3 separate regions of the Homo sapiens genome follow, and all the other regions are linked to region 1. The links come from fine-mapping of genetic effects on gene expression. A gene starts in region 1. Each other region holds a variant in brackets. All regions are shown on one strand. Distances are from middle to middle. Region 1 holds the start of PPEF1 (protein phosphatase with EF-hand domain 1). Region 2 overlaps PPEF1 (protein phosphatase with EF-hand domain 1). Region 3 has its middle 8.7 kb from the start of TRV-TAC1-2.

Region 1 (8,185 bases):
GTGAAAGGCACCATGTAGGTGCCAGAGATTCAAGGGCTACTTTGGAAGTTGCCCGTGGGGCTAATAGTCTAACAGAAATATACTCAAGTTTGATGCTTTTTAGTTCTTACTGAATCTTTTATATGCAGTTGTGTTTGTTGTGGATTAACTGAGGGGTGACTGAAAACCAAATGCCTCTGGAGAGATATTGAGACAGTGCTTTTTTTTTTCTGGAAAAAGAAAATCGAAATTGAAATATGTCAATCAGTCCAATCAGTGTTTATGGCCTACTAAATGCTCAATTCTTTTTTTCCCCTGTTTTCTTTTTTAAATTAAAAAACATACCTTTTTTTTTTTTTTTTTTTAAAGTCAGGATTTCACTCTGTCACCCAGGCTGGAGTGCAGTGGTGTGATCACGGCTCGCTGCATCCTTGACCTCCCAGGCTCAGGTGATCCTCCCACCTCAGCCTCCTGAGGAGCTGGGACTACAGATGTGCACCACCATGCCTGGCTAATTTTTTGTATTTTTTGGTAGAGATGGGGTCTCCCTATGTTGCCCAGGCTGGTCTCGAACTCCTGGGCTCAAAGGATCCATCTGCCTCAGCCTCCCAAAGTGCTAGGATTACGAATGAGAGCCACTGTGCCCAGCCCCAATTCTTATGTCTTCATAAAAAGGGGTGGAAAAAATAGCATGAGGATGGAGCGAAGCCCAAGCGAGATTTGGATACTGTTGGAAAATAGTGTTTCTTCAACTGAGATATGGGGATTCCTTGCATCAAAGTTCTCGGCATGGTGCACTTTAAATGTGTATTCCAAGGCACTGGACTTTTGAATCTGAGTATTGTTAGTAAAGCCTGGGAATCTGCATCCCCCCACCCCCAATAAGTCTTGTGAGCACTCGAGTTGGAGAGCACTGATCTAGGCACCTGGAGAATGTCACCAGGACTAGATGAATTCCTAGATGAACAGTGCCCCAATTTCAAAAATGAGAAAAGAATATATGCTAGAAGCCACAGACTTGATATGACCTCTGGAAAAATTCAGCTTGAAATAGATGGAGCCAAAGCATTTCTAGGAAAATGTGATCATCACTATGCAGCACCGTGGGTTTTCTAAAATACCGTCTCTATTACAGATTGTCAAACTTTGTTGTGTATTAGAATCTGGAAAACTGAAAAAAATCTTGATGCCTCATCCTCCACCCAGTACCAATTATGTCAAATTATCTGGGGGTGGGACTTGGGCATCAGTATTTTTTAAACCCCAAGAGATTCTGACTTAATGAGGTGCAGGCTGAGTACTGGGAGTTTGAAAAGCTCCCCAGGTGACACTCATATGCAACGAAGTATGACAAGCACAGGTCTATATGACATGGGACAAGTTGCTTAACTTCCTTGCACTTTGTGTAAATACTAGGTAATTTTAAAGGTCTCTCTCACCTTTAAACTTCTATGATTTTGTATTAAAAATGTTGCCAAATTGATTTCCTTCCTTTCTTCCTCCCCTGCCCTTCCTTCCTTTTCTCCTCCTCCTTCCCTCTCTCTTCTTTTGCTGGAATAAGCTGGAATGTCAAAGTATCAAAATATATACATATCATCATTTTATTAAAATATTTAGTAAAATTCTCCAGGATGTCTCACAGATAAATGAGAGTTATGATAGGTGAGTTTACCAGCTAACTGAACAAATGTGCTCAGCGAGTATGAAGGTAACGGATCTGTGGTGAACCTGGAGGATGGTTTGGAGTGGGATGCCACAGGGCTCATCCTGCCCTTGGATCTGATCTTGTTAATGTTCTTTAGCCATGATGTAGATAAGGAAGACACGAAAGAAATGCCTATCGAATTTGGAAATAAAGCCAAGCACGGTGGCTGATGCCTGTCATCCCAGCACTTTGGGAGGCTGAGGTGGGCACGTTGCTTGAGGCCAGGAGTTTGAGACCAACTTGGGCAACATGGTGAGACCCCATGTCTACAAAAAAGTACAAAAATTAGCTGGGCATGGTGGCGCATGCCTGTAGTTCCAGCTGCTCAGGAGGCTGAGGTAGGAGAATCACTTGAGCCCGGGAGGTGGAGGCTGCAGTGAGTCATGGTTGCGCCACTGCACTCCAGCCTGGGTGACAGAGCGAGACCTTGTCTCAAAAAATAAATAAAAATTTGGAAGTAACCCAAAGTTTAGGAAGGCTAATTCATTCAATACATAAAATAATCAGGTTCACCTCTGGTCAGAAAATCTGTTTACTAAGCTTATTGTTATTTTCAAAACATGGCCATAGTTCAAATATTTTGCTTATTTTAGTTTTCCCTTTCTTCAGTCGAGTTGAAATTTTGAAGCTTTTGGTGTAGTACCAATGGAAAGATAGATATGTCAGTTGTTTGCTGACTTTGTGCCTGTCAAGAAATGCAAATAGGGCTGGGCAAGATGGCTCACACCTGTGATCCCAGCACTTTGGGAGGACAAGGTCGGAGGATCACTTGAGCCCAGGAGTTTGAGACCAGCCTCGGCAACATAGGGAGACCCTGTCTCTACAAAAAAATAAAATTAGCCGGGTGTCACGGCACATGCTTGGGAGGTTAAGGCTGCAGCGAGCCGTGATTGTGCCACTACACTCCATCCTGGGTGACAGAGTGAGACCCTGTCTGAAAAAAAAAAAAAAAAAAAAGGAATGCAAATATATTAGATCAGGTTGGTTTGGAGCATCACAAAATAAAGGAAACATCACCCTAAAAAGTGACGTGACAGTATACTATGGAAAGGAATTTTGTTGAAAACTCCCGTGAAGTGATTATGGGAGTCAGGGAGCTCATGAGAAGGACTATAGAACACAAAGTTAGACTCCAGAGGGGCCTCAGCAGTGCCCAGAGAGCTTGTTTAAAAGGGCACTCTTGGCCAGGCACGGTGGCTCACGCCTGTCATCCCAGCACTTTGGGAGGCCGAGGCAGGTGGATCACCTGAGGTCAGGAGTTCGAGACCATCCTGGCCAACACAGCAAAACCCCGTCTCTACTAAAAATACAAAAAATTAGCCAGGTGTGGTGGCGCATGCCTGTAGTCCCAGCTACTAGGGAGGCTGAGGCGGGAGGATCACCTGAGCCTGGGAGGTTGAGGCTGCAGTGAGCTGTGATCACACCACTGCACTCCAGCCTGGGTAATAGAGCGAGACTCCGTCTCAAAAAATAAAATAAATAAAAGGACACTCTCACAGATTACAATTCCTAAATTTGGGGGGAGGTTTCAAACCTCCTTTTTTTTTTTTTTTTTTTTTTTTTTTTGAGATGGAGTCTCGCTTTGTCGCCCAGGCTAGAGTACAGTGGTGCGATCTCAGCTCACTGCAACCTCCGCCTCCTGGGTTCAAGCGATTCTGCTGCCTCAGCCTCCTGAGTAGCTGGGATTACAGACATGTGCCACCATGCTTGGCTAATTTTTGTACTTTTAGTAGAGACGGGGTTTCACCATGTTGGCCAGGCTGGTCTCGAACTCCTGACCTCGTAATCCGCCCGCCTCGGCCTCCCAAAGTGCTGGGATTGCAGGCGTGAGCCACTGCGACCGGCTGCCTCCTTTTTTTTAAAACAAATGTTCCCAACTTATTCCGCGAAATACTGTCAAAGAACTCACTTTGAATTTCAGCATAGCTGTTAAATATGTTGTTTTTGTCTCATAGTCAACTTCCAATTTGTGTTTTTAAAAGCCTAGATAGGTTGAATTACTTTGAGCTGAAAACCAAAACAGTTAATTATGTCAGCTCCTCCACATCCCATTCCCCATATTTAAATTAGAAAATCGTACACTCTCATATTTCGATTTTTCTTTTCATTTTGAATGCTCTATTTTATACAGAGCTGGATGTGACCTAGACATGGAGAAACTCATTTATGTCTAGCAGAGAAGCAGCCTATAGCTGCTCTGTAGCTGCTGCTGTGTTTTGGAAAATAAGCCAGGATTAGATTATGTCTGATCACTTTCCACATCACATGATGAACAGCGATTCAGAAGAAGCGTAAAATGAATCCTGCTGAGCAGCCCCTCAGCTACCATGTGGTTAACTGGCGGTTTCCTTCCCTCCCTCCTGTGTATTCCTCATTAGAATCTATGACTGAAGAGGATCGGCTAAGAGTGGTTCCTCGCAGCTTAAAGGGAGGCACTTTTCACACTCTGTCTTAAAATCAGAAGTTGAATTCATGAACACATATGATTTAGATAGAAGTCATGGGATGCAGCAGTTCTTCAACGAAAACCAGGAGATCTGACACATGTGAGTACTGGGAATGTGCCTGTGGTTATGAATGAAAAGGGGAAAATGAGCTGCCCTCACCCTCTTCTCCTTTCTCATTTACTCCCACGATGCTCAAGCTGCCCTGTGTGATTTGCACAAGGCATCGTTAGAGTAGCATAGGAAACTACATTTAGGAAGATGTAGCTTTGAATTTATGAAGTACCATAAAGTATTGTCTTAGAGATATTTTGTGTTTGATTTAATTTCATTCGATAATGTACCAATATAAAATCTCAATTTAAAACTCAGTGGCAGGGAACAAGAAAGGCAGTGTAATTTATATGTGTTTCTTCAATACTTTTATAAATAGCTATATCCCTACTTTTGTGACATTTAGTAGCATCATTGAATTTTTATTGGATTTTATAACTCAATGATCACATTATTTCTATATCTATTCAACACAGAACTTCATGAGATTTGCATCACGTTTTAAAAATAATCTAGGAGAATTGGGAGAATGCTAGATCATCTGTTTCCAAAAAAAAGGTGTATTGTTTCTAAATAGATGGCATGCCTTTCTGTACCCCCATATAATTAGAAGCTTAAATATTCACTTTGTTTATTTTGTACTGAGGTTCTTTCTCATGGCTATTGGCATCTAGTTGAAACAAACTTGAGCATTTAAGGGATAGAGTTTCCAACAAGCAAATTAAAATAAAAACAAGTAAATAAGCTGGGACAATTAATATGAGTAATTTGCTCTTAAACTCCACTTCTTTGATGTCTAGGTTATAGGTAATTCCCCCAACTTCTATTCCACGTCTTGCCTTTGGAAGTTTATTCAGGCTTAAGGTGGAGGGTTTAGGATGCAGAGTGTGCTATACTAATTAGCGTGGGATGTTTTACTTTGGGAATCAAATGTTATTCTCCTACCCAGCTGACTTGTGCTGATGATGTAGGAAACTCATCTCTGAAAGTAGGAAGGGACATAGGAGGTGTACTGACTCTTTCAAATCTTTAAGCATGTCATGAAATAAATCTTTCAAAAGCTCCATCTGAACTCTACTGCTGTAGTAGACGTTTATTAGCAGAGAGTAAAGAGAAATTATCTTTTTATATCTAGGATTACTCACAGTTCTTTAAATTTAGCCAAATTTCCTAGGTTAAAAAAAAAAAAGCCAAGTCCAACTTGTAAAAACAAATCCTCTCTCTTTTTGAAATACTTTTCAACTTTTAAAACATTGCATGTAAGTGGAAATATTAGCTTAGATTTTTGGATTGCTTTTTCTTTCAAATACCTGTGATTTATTGAGGTGAAATTCACGTAACATAAAATTAGCCATTGTCAAGTGAACAACTCAGCAGCAGTTGGTATGTTCACAGTGTCGTGCAACCACAACCCCTATGTACTTCTGAGACATTTCCAACACTCCAAAGTAAAACCCCTTATCCATTAAGCACTTTCTCCTCTCAGCCCCTGGCAACCACAAATCTATATTCAGTCTCTATGGATTTATCTATTCTGGACATTTCATGTAAATGGAGTCATATATTATGTGACCTTTTGTGTCTGGCTTTGTCCATGTTGTAGCATGTATCAGTACTATATTCCTTTTTATTGTGGAATAATATTTCATTGTATGAATATGCCACATTGTATTTATCCATTCATCAATTGATAGACATTTGGATTGTTTCAGCTTTGTTTTTTGTTTTTTGTTTTTTTTGAGACAGTCTTGCTCTGTCACCCAGGCTGGAGTGCAGTGGGGCGATCTCGGCTCGCTGCAACCTCCGCCTCCCAGGTTCAAGCGATTCTCCTGCCTCAGCCTCTGGAGTAGCTGGGATTACAGGCACACACCACCACACCTAGCTAATTTTTGTATTTTTGGTAGAGACAGGGTTTCACCATGTTGGCCAGGCTGGTCTCGAACTCCTGACCTCAGGTGATCTGCCCGCCTCGGCCTCCCAAAGCGCTAGGATTACAGGCGTGAGCCACTGTGCCCGACCTGTTTCAGCTTTTTGACTGTTATGAACAATGCTGCTGTGAACATATGTTTTCCGTTCTCTTGGGTATATACCTAGAAGTGGAATTGCTGGGTCATACGGTAGCTTTATGTTTAACATTTTGAGAAATTTCCAAGCTGTTTTCCCAAGTGACTGCACCATTCTACATTCCTACCAGCAGTGTATAAAGGTTTCAATTTCTCCACATTTTCAGCGATAGTTGTTATTGTCTGTCCTTTTGATTTTAGTCATCCTAGTGGGTATGAAGTGGTATCACACCATGGTTTTCATTTGTATTTCAGTAGTGACTAATGACATTGAGCATCTTTTCATGTGTTTATTGGCTATTTGTATATCTGCTTTGGAGAAATGTCTATTCAGATCATTTACCCATTTTTAATTGAATTATTTATTTTTATATTGTTGTAAGATAAATTTATATATTCTAGATACAAGTTTCCTATCAAATATGTGACTTGCAAATATTTTCTCTCATTTGTTGAATTCTCTTCATCCTTTCTTAATGGTGTTCTTTGAAGCACAAAAGTTTTTACTTTTGATGAAGTTCACTTTATTTTTTCTTTGGTTGCTTGTGATTTTGGTGTCATATCTAAGAATCCATTCCCGAGTCCAAAAAGATTTTTGCTCACGTCTTACTTTAAGAGTTTTGTAACAACTCAACAAGAAAAAAAAGATAACTCCATTAAAAAGTGGGCAAAGGTCATGAACAGACATTTTTTCAAAAGAAGGCATACAAATGGCTAACAAACACACGAAAAAAATGCTCAACATCACTAATCATCAGGTAAATGCAAATTGAAACCATAATGAGATACCACCTTACATACCGGTCAGAATGGCTATTACTAAAAAGTCAAAAAATAAGAGATGTAGGCAAGGATGTAGGGAAAAGGGAATGTTTATCACTGCTGGTGGGAATGTAAATTAGTACAACCTCTGTGGAAAACATTATGGAGATTTCTCAAAGAACTAAAAATAGAGCTACCAAACTACCATTTCATCCAGCAATCCCACCACGGAGTCTACCCAAAGGAAGTCATTATATCAAATAGATATCTACACTCTTATGTTTACCGCAGCACTATTTACAATAGCAAAGATATGGAATCACCGTAAGTGTTTTTCAATGGATGATTGGGTAAAGAAAATGTGTGGTGTATGTATATGTAAGTGTGTGTGTGTGTATATATGTGTGTGTGTGTATGTGTGTGTATATATACGTATATATGTATGTATGTGTGTGCATATATATATGTATATATATGTGTGTGTGTGTGTATATATATATATATGCATGCCATGGAATACTACTCAGCCATAAAAAAGAATGAAATCATGTCTTTTGCAGCAACATGGATGGAACAAGAAGCCATTATCCTAAGTGAAATTACTCAAAAAACAGAAAGTCAAATACCCCATGTTCTCACTTAAAAGTGGGAGCTAAATAATGTATACATATGGGCATCCAGAATACAATAATAGACACTGGAGACTCAGAAAGCTGGGAGGGTGGGAGGGGGGTGAGGTATGAGAAATTACCTAATGAGTACAATGTATGCTACTTGGGTAATGGTTACGCTAAAAGCCCAGACTTCATTATACATGTAACAAAATTACACTTATACCCCCTAAATATATATGTTTTTAAAGGCCAAAAAAAGTTTTGTACTTTTAGCTCTTACTTTTAGGCATTTGAACCATTTTGAGTTGCTGATTTTCACGTATGGTGTGAGGTAGGAGTACAAATTCATTTTTTGCATGTGGATATCCAGTTGTCTCAGCACTGTTTGTTGAAAAGATTGTTCTTTCCCCATTGAATCCTCTTAGCACCATTGTCAAAAATCAATTGACCATAAATGTTTATTTCTGGGCTCTCAATTCTATTCCAGTGATCTGTATGTCTTTCTTATGCCAGTACCAGTGTCTGGATTACTATAGCTTTTTTTTTTTTTTTTTGAGACGGAGT
Region 2 (8,185 bases), 34 kb after region 1:
TGTTGTCTTTGTTCTCATTGGTTTCAAAGAACATCTTTATTTCTGCCTTCATTTCGTTATGTACCAGTAGTCATTCAGGAGCAGGTTGTTCAGTTTCCATGTAGTTGAGCAGTTTTGAGTGAGTTTCTTAATCCTGAGTTCTAGTTTGATTGCACTGTGGTCTGAGAGACAGTTTGTTATAATTTCTGTTCTTTTACACTTGCTGAGGAGTGCTTTACTTCCAACTATGTGGTCAGTTTTGGAATAAGTGTGATGTGGTGCTGAGAAGAATGTTTATTCTGTTGATTGGGGTGGAGAGTTCTGTAGATGTCTATTAGGTCTGCTTGGTGCAGAGCTGAGTTCAGTTCCTGGGTATCCTTGTTAACTTTCTGTTTTGTTGATCTGTCTAATGTTGACAGTGGGGTGTTAAAGTCTCCCATTATTATTGTGTGGGAGTCTAAGTCTCTTTGTAGGTCACTCAGGACTTGCTTTATGAATCTGGGTGCTCCTGTATTGGGTGCACATATATTTAGGATAGTTAGCTCTTCTTATTGAATTGATCCCTTTACCATTTTGTAATGGCCTTCTTTGTCTCTTTTTATCTTTCTTGGTTTAAAGTCTGTTTTATCAGAGACTAGGATTGCAACCCCTGCTTTTTTTTTGTTTTCCATTTGCTTGGTAGATCTTCCTTCATCCCTTTATTTTGAGCCTATGTGTGTCTCTGCACGTGAGATGGGTCTCCTGAATACAGCACACTGATGGGTCTTGACTCTTTATCCAATTTGCCAGTCTGTGTCTTTTAATTGGAGCATTTAGCTCATTTACACTTAAGGTTAATATTGTTATGTGTGAATTTGATCCTGTCATTATGATGTTAGCTGGTTATTTTTCTCGTTAGTTGATGCAGTTTCTTCCTAGCCACGATGGTCTTTACAATTTGGCATGTTTTTGCAGTGGCTGGTACCAGTTGTTCCTTTCCATGTTTAGTGCTTCCTTCAGGAGCTCTTGTAAGGCAGGCCTGGTGGTGACAAAATCTCTCAGCATTTGCTTGTCTTTAAAGGATTTTGTTTCTCCTTCACTTACGAAGCTTAGTTTGGCTGGATATGAAATTCTGGGTTGAAAATTCTTTTCTTTAAGAATGTTGAATATTGGCTCCCACCCTCTTCTGGCTTGTAGAGTTTCTGCCGAGAGATCCGCTGTTAGTCTGATAGGCTTCCCTTTGTGGGTAACCCGACCTTTCTCTCTGGCTGCCCTTAACATTTTTTCCTTCATTTCCAACTTTGGTGAATCTGACAATTATGTGTCTTGGAGTTGTTCTTCTCGAGGAGTATCTTTGTGGCATTCTCTGTATTTCCTGAATCTGAATGTTGGCCTGCCTTGCTAGATTGGGGAAGTTCTCCTGGATAATATCCTGAAGAGTGTTTTCCAACTTGGTTCCATTCTCCCAGTCACTTTCAGGTACACCAATCAGATGCAGATTTAGTCTTTTCACATAGTCCCATATTTCTTGGAGGCTTTGTTCATTTCTTATTACTCTTTTTTCTCTGAACTTCTCTTCTCGCTTCATTTCATTCATTTGATCTTCAATCACTGATACCCTTTCTTCCACTTGATCAAATCAGCTACTGAAGCTTGTGCATGCGTCATGTAATTCTCGTGCCGTGGTTTTCAGCTCCATCAGGTCATTTAAGGTCTTCTCTACGCTGTTTATTCTAGTTAGCCATTCGTCTAATCTTTTTTCAAGGTTTTTAACTTCTTTGCGATGGGTTCGAACATCCTCCTTTAGCTCGGAGAAGTTTGTTATTACCGATCATCCGAGGCCTACGGCTGTCAACTCATCAAAGTCCTTCTCTGTCCAGCTTTGTTCCATTGCTGGCGAGGAGCTGCGTTCCTTTGGAGGAGAAGAGGCACTCTGAGTTTTAGAATTTTCAGCTTTTCTGCTCTGGTTTCTCCGCATCTTTGTGGTTTTATCTGCCTTTGGTCTTTGATGATGGTGACCTACAAATGGGGTTTTGGTGTGGATGTCCTTTCTGTTTGTTAGTTTTCCTTCTAACAGTCAGGACCCTCAGCTGCAGGTCTGTTGGAATTTGCTGGAGGTCCACTCCAGACCCTGTTTGCCTGAGTATCACCAGCAGAGGCTTCAGAACAGCAAATATTGCAGAACGGCAAATGTTGCTGCCTGATCCTTTCTCTGGAAACTTCGTCTCAGAGGGGTACCTGGCTGTATGAGGTGTCATTCGGCCCCTCCTGGGAGTTGTCTCCCAGTTAGGCTACTCGGGGGTCAGGGACCCACTTGAGGAGGCAGTCTGTCCGTTGTCAGATCTCATACTCTGTGCTGGGAGAACCACTACTCTCTTCAAAGCTGTCAGACAGGGATGTTTAAGTCTGCAGAAGTTTCTGCTGCCTTTTGTTCAGCTATGCCCTGCCCCCAGAGGTGGCGTCTATAGAGGCAGGCAGGCCTCCTTGAGCTGCAATGGGCTCCACCCAGTTCAAGCTTCCCGGCTGCTTTGTTTACCTACTCAAGCCTCAGCAATGGTGGATGCCCCTCCCCCACCCTTGCTGCTGCCTTGCAGTTCAATCTTGGACTGCTGTGCTAGCAGTGAGCGAGGCTCCGTGGGCGTGGGACCCTCCAAGCCAGGTGTGGGATATAATCTCCTAGTGTGCCATTTGCTAAGACCATTGGAAAAGTGCAGTATTAGAGTGGGAGTGTCCTGATTTTCCAGGTACCATCTGTCACGGCTTCCCTTGGCTAGGAAAGGGAATTCCCCGACCCCTTGCCCTTCCTGGGTGAGGCGATGCCCAGCCCTGCTTCTGCTCACACTCCGTGGGCTGCACCCACTGTCCAATAAGCCCGAGTGAGATGAACCCGGTGCCTCAGTTGGAAATACAGAAATCACCTGTCTTCTGCGTCGCTGACGCTGGGAGCTGTAGACTGGAGCTGTTCCTATTCGGCCATCTTGGAACCAAGATCAAGGGAACTTCATTTTTCATCCACAAAACTTTTTTGCTGAGAGATCAAAATATTTTGAGTATTTCATGCAGCAGATCTAGGGGAAAATGGCAAATTAAACACAGTTGGCCCCGTTGTGTCTGTTTTCTGTCCTCTCTCTCTCTCTTTTTTTTTTTTTTGAGACAGAGTCTCGCTCTGTTTCCCAGGCTGCAGTGCAGTGGCACGGTCTCGGCTCACTGCAACCTCTGCCTCCCGGATTCAGGTGATTCTCCTGCCTCAGCCTCCTGAGTGTCTGGGATTACAGGTGCTTGCTACCACACCCAGCTAATTTTTTGTATTTTTAGTAGAGACAGGGTTTGAGAATGTTGACCAGGTTGGTCTTGAACCCCTGACCTCGTGATCTGCCTGCCTCAGTCTCCCAAAGTGCTGGGATTACAGGCATGAGCCACTGCACCCGGCCTCTCTTCTCTTTGATCTGTCTGTCTGTCTACCTATCATCTAGTCATTCTGAAGCAGAGGCAGGCAATGGAGGTGTAGTTCAAAAATGATTTTAAAATTATAATTTTTTACAACCATGTATTTCTCCTGCAAATTAAGATCTGCCTGTTATTATCTCCAAGACAGATGCCAGACTTAAACGCTCATTTTGCTTTAATTTGGGCCAACCATTTTTTTTTTTTTTTTTTTTTTGCTCTCATTAAAATGTGTATGGCATCTAGGAGCATCTTTTAAATAATCTGGTAAATACCCTTCAAAGTGAAGTGGTAAAAGAATGGTGTTTTAATGGGCATGATTTAAGCTAAGTGCATATGTATGAAACTAATTAAAGCATTTAATGATCTGTAGAAGCCTTCTGAATGGTGAAATAGCCAAACCTAAGGAATGGGGAGTGGGTGGAAGTGGGTACTTTGCCATTTTTTCTTTTAGATAACTGCAATTCGAAGACAGTTGTTTATGCTTCATATTCCTTGGCAAAAATGTTTTTGAGAGGAAATATGATAATGATAAAATGAAACAGCACTTTCTGCTAATGACCTAATACTTCAACCCAGGCTCACTTCATCAGAATCACTTACGGAGTTTCAGAGCCACAGGTGGCTGGGTTCCAGCCCGGAGATGTCTACTCAGACTGTGTTGTCATTGTTGTTGTTTTAATCTGCATTTTAAAAAATTCCGTAGGTGATTTTAAAATATAAGAAAAATATTTTTATTAAAGAAGGGGACAGTGGTTTAATCTTCTTATAGAAGCTTTTTTGGAAGTATACATTACAGGAAGGTATACAAATTATATGACTCAGTACATTTTCTCAAAGTAAACACACCCATGTAACTGGCACCTGGAACAAGAAATAAAACATGATCAGGGCCACATAAGTTTCCCATCCTGCCTTCTTGTACTGCTACCCAACCCCCACACAATCACATAACTACTTTCTTGACTTCTACACCCTAGATTAGTCTTTGAACTTCTTTATATAGATGGAAGCATGTGGTATATACCCATTTGAGTCTGGCTGCT[G/T]CTTCTTTTTTTTTTTTTTTTTTTTTTTTAACGTTTTGTTTTGTTGTCGTTGTTGAGACAGAGTCTTGCTCTGTCACCCAGGCTGAATTGCAGTGGCGCAATCTCACCTCACTGCAACCTCCACCTTCCTGGTTCAAGCAATTCTCATGCCTCCCGAGTAGCTGGGATTACAGGCATTCACCAGTAAACCTGGCTAATTTTTGTATTCTTAGTGGAGATGGGGTTTCGCCTTGTTGGCCAGGCTGGTCTCGAACTCCTGGCCTCGGGTGATTTGCCTGCCTCGGCCTTCCAAAGTGCTGGGATTACACACATGAGCCACTGTGCCCAGTCCTGAGTCTGGCTTCTTTTGATCATCATTACATTTGTAAGAATCATCCTTGTAATTTGGTCATTTTTATTGCTGAATAATATTCCATTTTACTAATATACCATAATTGATCCATTCGATTGTGTATGGGCATTTGAGTTGTTTTCAGATTGGTGATTTAAATGGTGCTGCTATGTACATTCTTGTACATGTCCCTTTTGGTAAAATATGTATGCATTTATTTGGCTATATATTCATTTTTGGTTATCTATTGCTACCTAATAAACTACCCCCACATTTAGTGACTTAAAAACAACAGCCATGTTATTGCATGTAATTCTGTGGGTCAGGCATTTGAACAGGGCTTGCTGGGAACAACTTACCTCTGTTCCATGTGTTATCAGTTGAGCTCACTCATCTAGCTGGACTGGGCAGGAAAGATCAAATGGTTTTAATCACATGTCTGGGATTTTGGTATTAGGTATTAACTTGGTTACCTCTCGGCCAGGTGCAGTAACTCATGCCTGTAATCTCAGCACTTTGGGAGGCTGAGGTGGATGGATCACTTGAGATCAGGAGTTCAAGACCAGCCTGGCCAACCCCATCTCTAGTAAAAATACAAAAATTAGCTGGGTGTGTTGGTGCACGCCTGTAATCCCATCTACTCAGGAGACTGAGGCACAAGAATCGCTTGAACCTGGGAGGCGGAGGTTGCAGTGAGCCAAAATCGTGCTACTGCACTCCAGCCTGGGTGACATAGTGAGACTCCATCTCAGAAAAAAAAAAAAAAATTTGGTTACCTCTCTTTTTCTCACGCAGCCTTTCTGTCCATTAGGCTATTCTGGACTTCTTTACATGATGGCTGGGTCCAAGAGGGCAAAGGCAGAAGCTGCCAGGCCTCTTAAGGCCTATGTGCTAGAACTCTGGGAAATCAGTTCTGCCATACTCTATCGGTTAAAACAAGTCACAAGGCCAGACGTGAATTCAGAGCAGTTAAAGAGATATCCATCTCTTCCTCAGAGGAGTGGCAGTATTACAGTATAAAGGGATGTGGACATAGGGAGGCATGATTCCTTGGGGAGCCATTATCATAAAAATGTACCACAAGCCAGGGATAGAAGTTTGGGGTTATAGCGCTTATATCTGTTCAGCTTTATTAGATACTGGCAGACATTTTTACAGGATGGTTGTAACAAGCTATACTCTCACCAGTTCAGTTGCTCCATATCCTCACCAACACTTGCAATAGTACATTCATTTCATTTTAGTCATTCTGGTGAATATCTAGTGGTATCGTATTTCAGGTTTAATTTGCATTTCCCTTTGAGCAGTCAAGTTGCTCACTTTTTTTCTTTTCTTTTTTCTCTTTTTCTTTTTTTTTTTTTTTTTTTTTGAGACAGAGTCTTACTCTGTTCCCCAGGCTGGAGTGCAGTAGCGTAATCTCGGCTCACTGCAACCTCTGCCTCCCGGGTTCAAGCCATTCTCCTGCCTCAGCTTCCTGAGTAGCTGGGACTACAGGCATGTGCCACCACGCCTGGCTAATTTTTGCATTTTTAGTAGAAATGGGTTTCGCCACATTGGCCAGGCTGGTCTCAAACTCCTGACCTCAGGTGATCCGCCCACCTCGGCCTCCCAAAGTGCTGGGATTACAGGCATGAGCCACCGCTCCCGACCAAGTTGCTCACCTTTTTGTATGTTTATTGGTCATGTGGACATCTCATGTGGTGAAGTTCCTGTTCAGGTTTTTTTGTCCATTTTTCTATTGGGTTATTTGTCTTTTTCTTATGAATTTGGAAGAGTTTTCTAACTCTTCTTATTTTATTTTATTTTTTTAGATAGAGTCTCACTCTGTCGCCCAGGCTGGAGTGCAGTGGCATGACCTCGGCTCCCTGCAACCTCCCCGCTGCCCAGGTTCAAGTGATTCTCGTGCCTCAGGCTCCCGAGTAGCTGGGATTACAGGCATGCACCACCATGCCTGGCTAATTTTGTATTTTTAGTAGATACGGGGTTTCTTCCATGCTGGTCAGGCTGGTCTCAAACTCCCGACCTCAGGTGATCCACCCGCCTCGGCCTCCCAAAGTGCTGGGATTACAGGCGTGAGCCATTGCGCCCGGCCTAAATAGGATATTTTTAGGAACCAGAAGGTTATTTAACATTTCCAGATATCGGGGCCACCAGATTAATGGTCTTAACTCTGGGGCATGGAGTATCTTGAGACACGTTGGGTACTCTGAAGATAAGAGGTGACCCTGGAAGCAGTCATACTTGTCCTTGTAATCCTACCACCTCTTGATGATCAATTATAACAGTTGATCTCCCTGTGCTACTACTTTAAGAGCTCAAAACCAGTGCATAGGACTCCATGGGGTGTAGAGACTCCACAGAAACATTCCCAGTCCACTTTTCACACATCAGCCTCCTCCCACAGGCAGAAAGCCGAAGCTGCCATACATAGCCATAGGTTTAAACAGAGACTGGCGGAAGCGGGGAGTGGGATGGAGTGTGTGGAAGTGTTGTTTTCACTTTTCTTTCTGCTTCTCAGATCAGCCAAAATGTCCTATCGGACCAGGTATTTTATATTTTTTGTTGCTATGGTGAATAGAACATTTTCCCCATTATATCTTCCATTGGTTATCGGTAGTGTTTAGTAAAGCTTTTGAATTATGTCAATTTATCTTATATTGTGCTACTATTAAGTAATAATAATATTTTTATTGTTGATATTTGTTACATGTTTACCATGTGCCATGTATTTAAGTGCTTTAAATACATCATTTCATTTAGTCTTCATGACAAACCAGTGAGATTAGTAGTATTATCATCCCCTTTTTGTAGATATGGAATCTGAGGCTTAGAAGGCAATCTCCCAAGGTTATTCATCTCATTGGTGGAGAAGCTGTGATTCAAACCAGTGTGATTAATGTCTATATTTTATACATATAAAAAATATAAAATATATATTTATTATAGTATTTATATAATATATATTCCATATAATTATATATTTATATGGAATATATATTATATATTATATAATTATATTATATATATTATATAATTATATTATATATATTATATATTATAATATAATTATATATTATATTATATTCCATATAATTATATAGAATATATATTATATATATATATATTTATTTTCGAGACAGGGTCTCACTCTGTCACCCAGACTAGAGCACAGTAACATGATCATGGCTCACTGCAGCCTCGACCTCCTGGGCTCAGATGATCCTCCTACCTCAGGCTCCCGAGTAGCTGGGACTAGAGGCACGCACCACCATGCCCAGCTAATTTTTTTGCATTTTTTGTAGGGGTTTTGCCATGTTGCCCAGGCTTGTCTCGAACTCCTGGACTCAAGCAATTCTCCATGCCCAGCCTCTGTATTACATTTAATTCTCCTATCAATTCTGGGAGT
Region 3 (8,185 bases), 24 kb before region 1:
ACATTTTGCCTGGATCATAGCCAGTAGCCTCAGATCTTGGCCTTTCAGCTTCTGCCCTTTCCCCCCTACAGACTATTCTCCACACAGTAGCCAGAGTGGTCCTTTCAAGATTCAGATTAGCTCTCATCATTCTGTGCAAAACCCTTCAATGGCTCCCTACCTCAACTAGAAAAGCTGAAGCCTTACAGTGGCCTACAAGGCTTGTGCCTCTCTGGTTATAAATCCTCTTACTGGCCAAGCACAGTTGATCATGCTTGTAATCCCAGCACTTTGGAGGCCAAGGTGGGCAGACACTTGAGGCCAGGAGTTTGAGACCAGTCTGGCCAGCATGATGAAATCCCGTCTCTACTAAATATACAAAAATTAGCCAGGTATGGTGGCATGCACGTGTAATCCCAGCTACTTGGGAGGCTAAGATGGGAGGATCGCTTGAGCCTGGGAGGCGGAGGTTGCAGTGAGCCGTGACTGTGCCATTACACCCCAGCCTGGGTCACAGAGCAAGACCCTGTCCTCAAAAAAAAAAAAAAAAAAAATCCTATAACTTTGCCTTTGCTTTGACTGCACTCCAGCCACACCGGCCTGCTTGCTGCCCTTCAGTTACACTAGGCCTCTCCTGCCTCGGGGCCTTTGCTGCTGCTGCTGCTGCTGCTGCTGCTCTCAGCCTCGAATAGTTTTTCCTTAGATCACGCTGTTGCTTGTTCTCTCACCTTGCTCGGGTCATACCCAGATATCTTCTCAGTGAGGCCTTTCCTGACTGTCTACTGAAAATTGCTATTATTCTTTTCCATTCATGCTAGAGACTCACTGCCCCCCTTTCCTGCTTATTTTTCTCTGCAGCACTAAATTTCTTCTCTTTTTTTTTTTTTTTTTGATACGGCATCTCGCTCTGTCGCCCAGGCTGGAGTGCAATGGCGTGATCTCGGTTCACTGCAACCTCCGCCTCCTGGGTTCAAATGATTCTCCTGCCTCAGCATCCCGAGTAGCTGGGACTATAGGCACCTGCCACCACGCCCAGCTAATTTATATATATAAATATTTTTAAATTTTATTATTATTATACTTTAAGTTTCAGGGTACATGTGCACAACGTGCAGGTTTGTTACATATGTATACGTGTGCCATGTTGGTGTGATGCACCCATTAACTCGTCGTTTAGCATTGGGTATATCTCCTAATGCTATCCCTCCCCCTCCCCCCACCCCACAAGAGTTCCCGGTGTGTGATGTTCCCCTTCCTGTGTCCATGTGTTCTCATTGTTCAATTCCCACTTATGAGTGAAAACATGCAGTGTTTGGTTTTTTGTCCTTGCGATAGTTTGCTGAGAATGATGGTTTCCAGTTTCATCCATGTCCCTACAAAGGACATGAACTCATCATTTTTTATGGCTGCATAGTATTCTATGGTGTATATGTGCCACATTTTCTTAATCCAGTCTATCGTTGTTGGACATTTGGGTTGGTTCCAAGTCTTTGCTATTGTGAATAGTGCCACAATAAACATACGTGTGCATGTGTCTTTATAGCAGCATGATTTGTAATCCTTTGGGTATATACCCAGTAATGGGATGGCTGGGTCAAATGGTAATAGAGATGGGATTTCACCATGTTGGCCAGGATGGTCTTGATCTCTTGACCTCGTGATCCGCCCACCTTGGCCTCCCAAAGTGCTGGGATTACAGGCGTGAGTCACTGCGCCTGGCCTGCAGCACTAAATTTCTACATATTTACTAATTTATTTTGTTGATTGTCCCCACCATCCTCGACTGGAATGAAAGATCCATGAGGGCATGGATTTGGCTTCATTCTCTGTTGTATTACGCAGAGTCTAAATAGTTTCCAGCATATAGTAAGTGCTCAGTGAATATGTCTTGAAAACAATGTGTCAGTGTTGAGGGTGACTCAAGCCAGGGCAATGAGTTCCAGTAAGAGCTAATCCTGGATTTTTGCTTGACTTCTTGAGCAGAGACGTTTCCTAATTCACCCTGGACTTGAACGTGAGATGATGTAGAGGCTGGCACTTCTGCTGCCATCTTACTATTGCGTTATATTAGGGCTCTTGGTTGCATACAACAGAATCCTCTTGTTCAAAATATTCACTTTTCTTCCCCATGTAGGATTTTGACACCATGGTCCCCCGATAGACTTGCCCAGGTGGCTTTGCTTTGCCCAGTTGAATGTGAGCAGAAGTGATGAGTATCACTTCCAAGCAAAAGTGTAAGAGCCAGTGTGGTGGCTGCTTCTGTCCTTCCCCTTTGCTGCAAGAAGAACAGCAATGCCCCATAGACAGGTTGGCCTGAGTTTCAGAGGGAAGGCTCCATGTTACATAACTGCAGCCCATCTGCACTGTCCGCGGAACTGGAGTGCAAAACAAACCTTTATCATTGTAAGCCACTAACGTTTGGGGTTGTTACGAAAGCATAACACCACCTAAGCGGCTTCAACACTCCCACAAGTTTAAGAGGAAAAGGAGTTTATTAAAGGACACCAGATGGCTCACAGGATCTCCAAGAAGGCCTCGGTGACTCCAAAGCCAGGAATGATGTCCAAATCTCACTGAGGGACTGCACCAGCGCAGGTGCGCACTGCTGCCTCCTCTGAGTACATATTTAGTAAGTCACACCAGTGTTGGAGCCCAGAATCTTGACCACTGCTGTCTCTGGAAACTGGACACCTCTGCCACTAACCTTGGCAGTAGATGGCCTTTGGGAGCCCTCCACGTCTTCAGGTTGCCCTCTTCTGGATTGAAGTCGCTGGCAGAGCTGAGTTTACCTGCCTGTGCTCTTGCTATCAAAGAGGCTGGAAAAGCAAATTTCTTGTTTCTACTTTGGCGAGTTAGGAGTCAAACAGGAGGAATTACCAAGACATAGGGAGGAGGTTCAGAAGTTAGTGAATGACCATGAAGCATGAAAGACGTCCACGACCTGCTGGAGACCTGAGGATGGAGCGGACACCAAGGGATCCCAGCTGAGCAATAGAGCAGCTGGGTGCCATGACTTACGCCCCGGCCCCAGTCATGCATATACCATTGACTCTTCAGTTATTTGAGGAAACCATTCCTAGCTTTGCTTAAGCCAGCTGGAATGGGCTTACTGACACTTGCAATGGAAAGAGTCCTAATGATCTGTGTCTCAAATGGATGAGCGTTGGCACAGTGGCTAACGGTGGTGCCCTGGCTCGGATGCCTGAAAGTTTTGGTTGTTCTCAGTCCCCAGTAAGTGGGGATGAGGCTGACAGTTATGGGAATGGCCGCTTCTGGTAGGGTAGGTGTATTAATCTGTTCTCACGCTGCTAATAAAGACAAACCCCAGACTGGGCAATTTATAAAGGAAAGAGGTTTAGTGGACTCACAGTTCCAGTGGCTGAGGAGGCCTCACAATCATGGCGGAGGATGAAGGAGGAGCAAAGGGACGTCTTACATGCTGGCAGGCAAGAGAGAAATGAGAGCCAGGCAAAAGGGGAAGCCAAAACCATCAGATCTCATGAGACTTATTCACTCTCATGAGAACAGCATGGGAAAGACCTGCCCCATGATTCGATTGCCTCCCCTCCGGGTCCCTCCCACGACACGTGGGAATTGTGGGAGCTACAATTCAAGATGAGATTTGGGTTGCAGCACAGCCAAACCGTATCACCTGGGTTGTGGTTTCCCTGTCTGCTGGGGAGCCAGTAGTTCTCATGTACAGCAGGGCGCTTGCTCACGTGTGGCACAGTAACCAGGCCAGGTACAATTATACAGTGGGCAACATGTCTGTGTCAGATAGTGCTAGTTGCTTATCTACTAGCAGATATTGAGGAAAAGAGGAATATCCGTTCCTCTTTTCCTCAATAAGACAAGTAAAAACGCACAGTTGTACAGTGCTTGCTGTGTATTAGGGACTATTCTAAGTGCTTCACTCGTATTAACTCATTGAATCCTCATGAGAACCCTGTACTATTATCATAGTTTGCAGGTGAGGAAATCGAGGCACAGAGTAAGTTGGTAACTTGACCAAGTCACACAGTGACATAAAGAAGCAAGGTTCTAAGCCCAGACCATCTGGCTCCGTGGGCTGTGCTTAGCCTCTGCACTATAGTGCCTGATTTTGTTTGCTTTGGTGATGTGTCTGGCTAAAACAGCTTCATTTCCTTGAAAGGAGGTAGACCCATTTGGTATCCCCCCTTTTGCCCATAGTTCATCTCTTTCTGCCTGGAACGTGAGTGTGGTGCTAGAAGGAGGGCATCACTTTCTGTCGTGATTACTATTTTGCACCCATGAGTTGACAATTGGGAAGAAGAAAGCTGCATGGCTTGGCCTAAAGAAGGAAGGTGCCTGGGTCCCAGCCCCAGATTCCCTACTCCAGATTCCTTGTGAAATGAATAATAAAATCCCTCATTTTTAATGCTACTGTTTAGTAGAAGTTTCAGTTATATGAGGAAAAATACAGATCCTACTGATTGAACCTTTGCACATAGCTCACCCGTAGCTCTCTCCTGTACCATTTTGACAATGTCTTTAATTTG[T/C]CCCCCAGCTACCAAGGGCTTGCCCTGTGTTCCAGTCCCTTGATGGAAGTTGTTCATTATCACATGCCTGCAATATGTCTGGGAACACAGTGTTGGGTAGTGCGGGAGCTTTTTTAAAAAAAGTATATGACATGGCCTCATCTCAAGAAGTCTGAAGAACATGAGTTAACCCAAAGGACTCATTTGTTCCAGTATGTTAATGGAAGATAGTGGCTTGATGTGGTTTTCCTAATGTAGGATGTTACTAGATCTGAATTTGGGCCCGGTCTCCTTTCTCTTAAAGAAGAAACTTGACAAAAGAGAAGGCTGATGAGGGATAGGCAGGGTGATAAGCAAAAACCTGTCTAATAGGAAAGAAGGCCTCACATGGTATACCTCTCCAGACCAGCTATCTATAACCTTCACAATCACCCACGATCACTTTCAGTGAGATTACATTTCCTAGAGATGGCCACTCGAGAGAGAAACAGATGAGCTTAGAATGTTTTGTCTCCCCCTCTCTTACTTAACCTATCTTGGGATGTGTCTAGTATCTTTTTCTCTCTCTCTTTTTTTTTTTTTTTTAATTTGAGGCAGAGTCTCACTCTGTCGCCCAGGCTGGAGTGCAGTGGCACAATCTTGGCTCACTGCAACCTCCACCTCCCGGGTTCAAGCGATTCTCCTGCCTCAGCTTCCCAAGTAGCTGGGATTCCAGGTATCCGCCACCACGCCTTGCTGATTTTTGTATTATTAGTAGGGATGGATTTTCACCATGCTGCCCAGGCTGATCTTGAACTCCTGACATCAGGTGATCTGCCTGCCTTGGCCTCCCAAAGTGCTGGGATTACAGGCCTGAGCCACCACACCCGGCAGAGATGTGCCTAGTTTCTAAAGTCACTCCCCTGTGACTAGGTAACTGAACACAGAACAATTTGACTACTACTGCCCACTCCTCTAGAGTCCCATTTAAAAGGCAACACCTGATAGCAGCCAGTGCTAATTGGTGATGGAAATGGAATGGGTTACTCCCTCGACTCCCACAACACTTACTGCCTGATTTGTTTCCACATGGATTCAACTGGGCACGCAATAAGACTTGCCTCTAAGCTTTCTGCACAGTCTGAGGGAAAGATTTCAAGTGTGGTGCAGGTGTTAAACTCCAGTCATATTGTGTATTTTTACTAATGATTTCAAGAATTGGGGATCTTTTGGATACAATTTGGGTAGAGTCCTAAGGCCATCTACAGTAATAAAAGCAAAACCAATTAGTAGGTTGTTTAATTCATTTAGAGGCTATCTGCATGCTAGCAGTTTTCCTCTGCTAAATCCTGTTAAGATGCAGTGGGTTCTGCCAGGCACGGTGGCTCACGCCTGTAATCCCAGCACTTTGGGAGGCCGAGGAGGGTGGATCACGAGGTCAGGAGATCGAGACCATCCTGGCTAACACGGTGAAACCCCATCTCTACTAAAAATACAAAAAATTAGCCGGCCGCGGTGGCGGGTGCCTGTAGTCCCAGCTACTTGAGGGGCTGAGGCAGGAGGATGGCGTGAACCCGGGAGGCGGGGCTTGCAGTGAGCCGAGATCTCGCCACTGCACTCCAGCCTGGGTGAAAGAGCGAGACTCCATCTCAAAAAAAAAAAAAAAAAAAGAAAAAAAAGCAGTGGGTTCTATTTTGTGCAGACGGAGTAGGCTGCCATGACAACTGTCTGTGAATATTATTTCAATATTAGTCATACATTTCTAGCGTCTGCTTCTGGGCTCAGCGTTCTTCTAAAGCCTGGATACAAATTTATTCTTAATGGACCTCTCCTGGACGTGTTTACAAAAAGAACAAAAACAAAACACTTTCAACTGGCTGACTTTTTTTTTCTTTCAGAAGAGAAATTTGAATGAATTCACACAACTGAAAATTGATTGTGAATCTTATTGTCATTTTTTCTTTTAAAAAGGTGATTGTGATGTGAACTTATATGGTGCTGGATTATAGATTTTACTGAATAGAAGCACTACACCAGGATTTGGAAAGTTCCCCTGTAGGCATGTAGTCCTTACAGTAAAATTATTATTTTTTTCTTCTAACAGTATCAGAAAGAATCTTGTAGTTGCCTGTGGCAGAAGATCCGACCCAAACTGAGCAAAACCAGTTTCAAACGAATCTGGTTTGAAACTTCCGAAGGTAAGATTTGATCCAGAGACTAAGGATGGAGGGCTCCGGCTCCATTTCCCTGCCTTTTGGTTGGCCCTTCCCCATGTATCAATTTCACCCCCTGGACTGGCTCTTCTCATGGTGAAACCTTGCTCAGAGCACCACACTAGGGGGAGATAAGTGAGTCTGTCCCAGCACTCTCTCCAGGTACCCCGAGATTCACTCATAATATCTTTCTTTAGCTATACGCCCACCCCAAACACTCCTTTTTGCCAGGAGAAGAGGATATGCTGTCTTAGGCCTGAATTATGTGCTTGTTCCTGAAAAGTTGCTGTTGCTTGGGGAGTGGGCTCGGATAATTGGCTTAAGTCAACCAGGGCCCGCGCTTAGAGTTGGGGGCTGCGTCAGTCCCATGCAAATCACTTGGCTAAAAAACAGGAAGCGGGGGTGATTTCGAAAAGGAAAATTGTGATTCTATTACAAGGAAGTTAGGGGACTATTTGCTAGCCACCTGGTTAGGGAACAGAATGCTGGCCTAATGATAATAATAATAGCTAACATTTATTGAATACTATGAGCCAGGCACCAAGCTGCTTTATAGTTGTATTGGTTAGAGAATGTGTTTGGCTGCCTGAAATAAGGTAAATAGAACACCAGGGGCTTAACACAGAGCGCTTGGTTTTCGTCCCACATGATACGAAGCCAGGAGATATACAGTGTCACATTGTCATCCAGGTCTCAAGCTCGTCCCTCCATCCTGCATCCATCCTGCATCATGGTTTCGCTATTCTCAGTGTGAGGCTTTCTTCCTAGTGTGCATGAGATGGCTGCTCCTCCTCCAGGCATTGTGTCCTGGTTCCAGGCAGAATAGGGGGAAGGACAAAAGAGAAGAGGCTTATGCCAGCTGAGTCTTTTCCTTTTTATCAGGAAAATAGCTTTTCTGGAAGCCTCAGCCCATAGATTTCTGCTTGTATCTCAAGGGCTAGAACTGTGTCACATGACTACCCATAGTTGCAAGGGAGCCTAGCAAATCAAGTTTTGTTGCCCGAACACTGCCACCTAGAACAAAACGGGGGTTTTATTAGTAAGGAACAGGGGGAGAATGGACAGTAATGATCAGTGGCTGCTACAATGTGTGTTAACCCATTCATTCGTTACGTCAACCCAGTGTGATTGGTGCTATCTGTAGCCTCGTTTTATAGTTGAAGCAATAGGCACAGAGAGGTTATGTAATTTGCCCAAGCTCACACAGAGCTGTTAAGTGGTTGAGCAAGAACTTGAACCCAAGCAAGCTGACTCTAGAATCTAATTCTATTATGTCCCTAGACACATCCTGACCCACTGGCCAGACCACATTTCTTCTCTAGGATGTATATCCACTTGGGAAATGCAGGCCTCTCCTGGAAATGGTAGCTAATACTTGTTTAGCACTTTATAGTTTACAAAGAGATTGCCACTTAAATTATTCTCTTTAAATATTCTTCTTTTTTTTTTTTTTTTTTTTTGAGACAGAGTCTCACTCTGTTGCCCAGGCTGGAGTGCAGTGGCACGATCTCAGCT

The links. PIP is the estimated chance that this variant, and not a neighbour inherited with it, causes the effect.
Region 2: its variant is fine-mapped to the expression of PPEF1 in whole blood (TOPMed, PIP 0.94).
Region 3: its variant is fine-mapped to the expression of PPEF1 in whole blood (TOPMed, PIP above 0.99).

Annotation. Positions count from the first base shown.
Region 1 is chrX:18,703,597-18,711,781 of GRCh38, forward strand. It overlaps PPEF1 (protein phosphatase with EF-hand domain 1), which reads left to right and starts at 4,049. Exons shown (of 16, transcript NM_001377996.1): 1 at 4,049-4,230. The coding sequence starts at 4,185.
Region 2 is chrX:18,737,320-18,745,504 of GRCh38, forward strand. The region is part of intron 3 of PPEF1 (protein phosphatase with EF-hand domain 1); the gene reads left to right. Among named protein-coding and RNA genes, the nearest start is that of PPEF1, 34 kb to the left of the region's middle. The variant G/T (reference allele first, on the strand shown) is at 4,449.
Region 3 is chrX:18,679,577-18,687,761 of GRCh38, forward strand. It overlaps a transcript of PPEF1 not described here. Among named protein-coding and RNA genes, the nearest start is that of TRV-TAC1-2, 8.7 kb to the left of the region's middle. The variant T/C (reference allele first, on the strand shown) is at 4,500.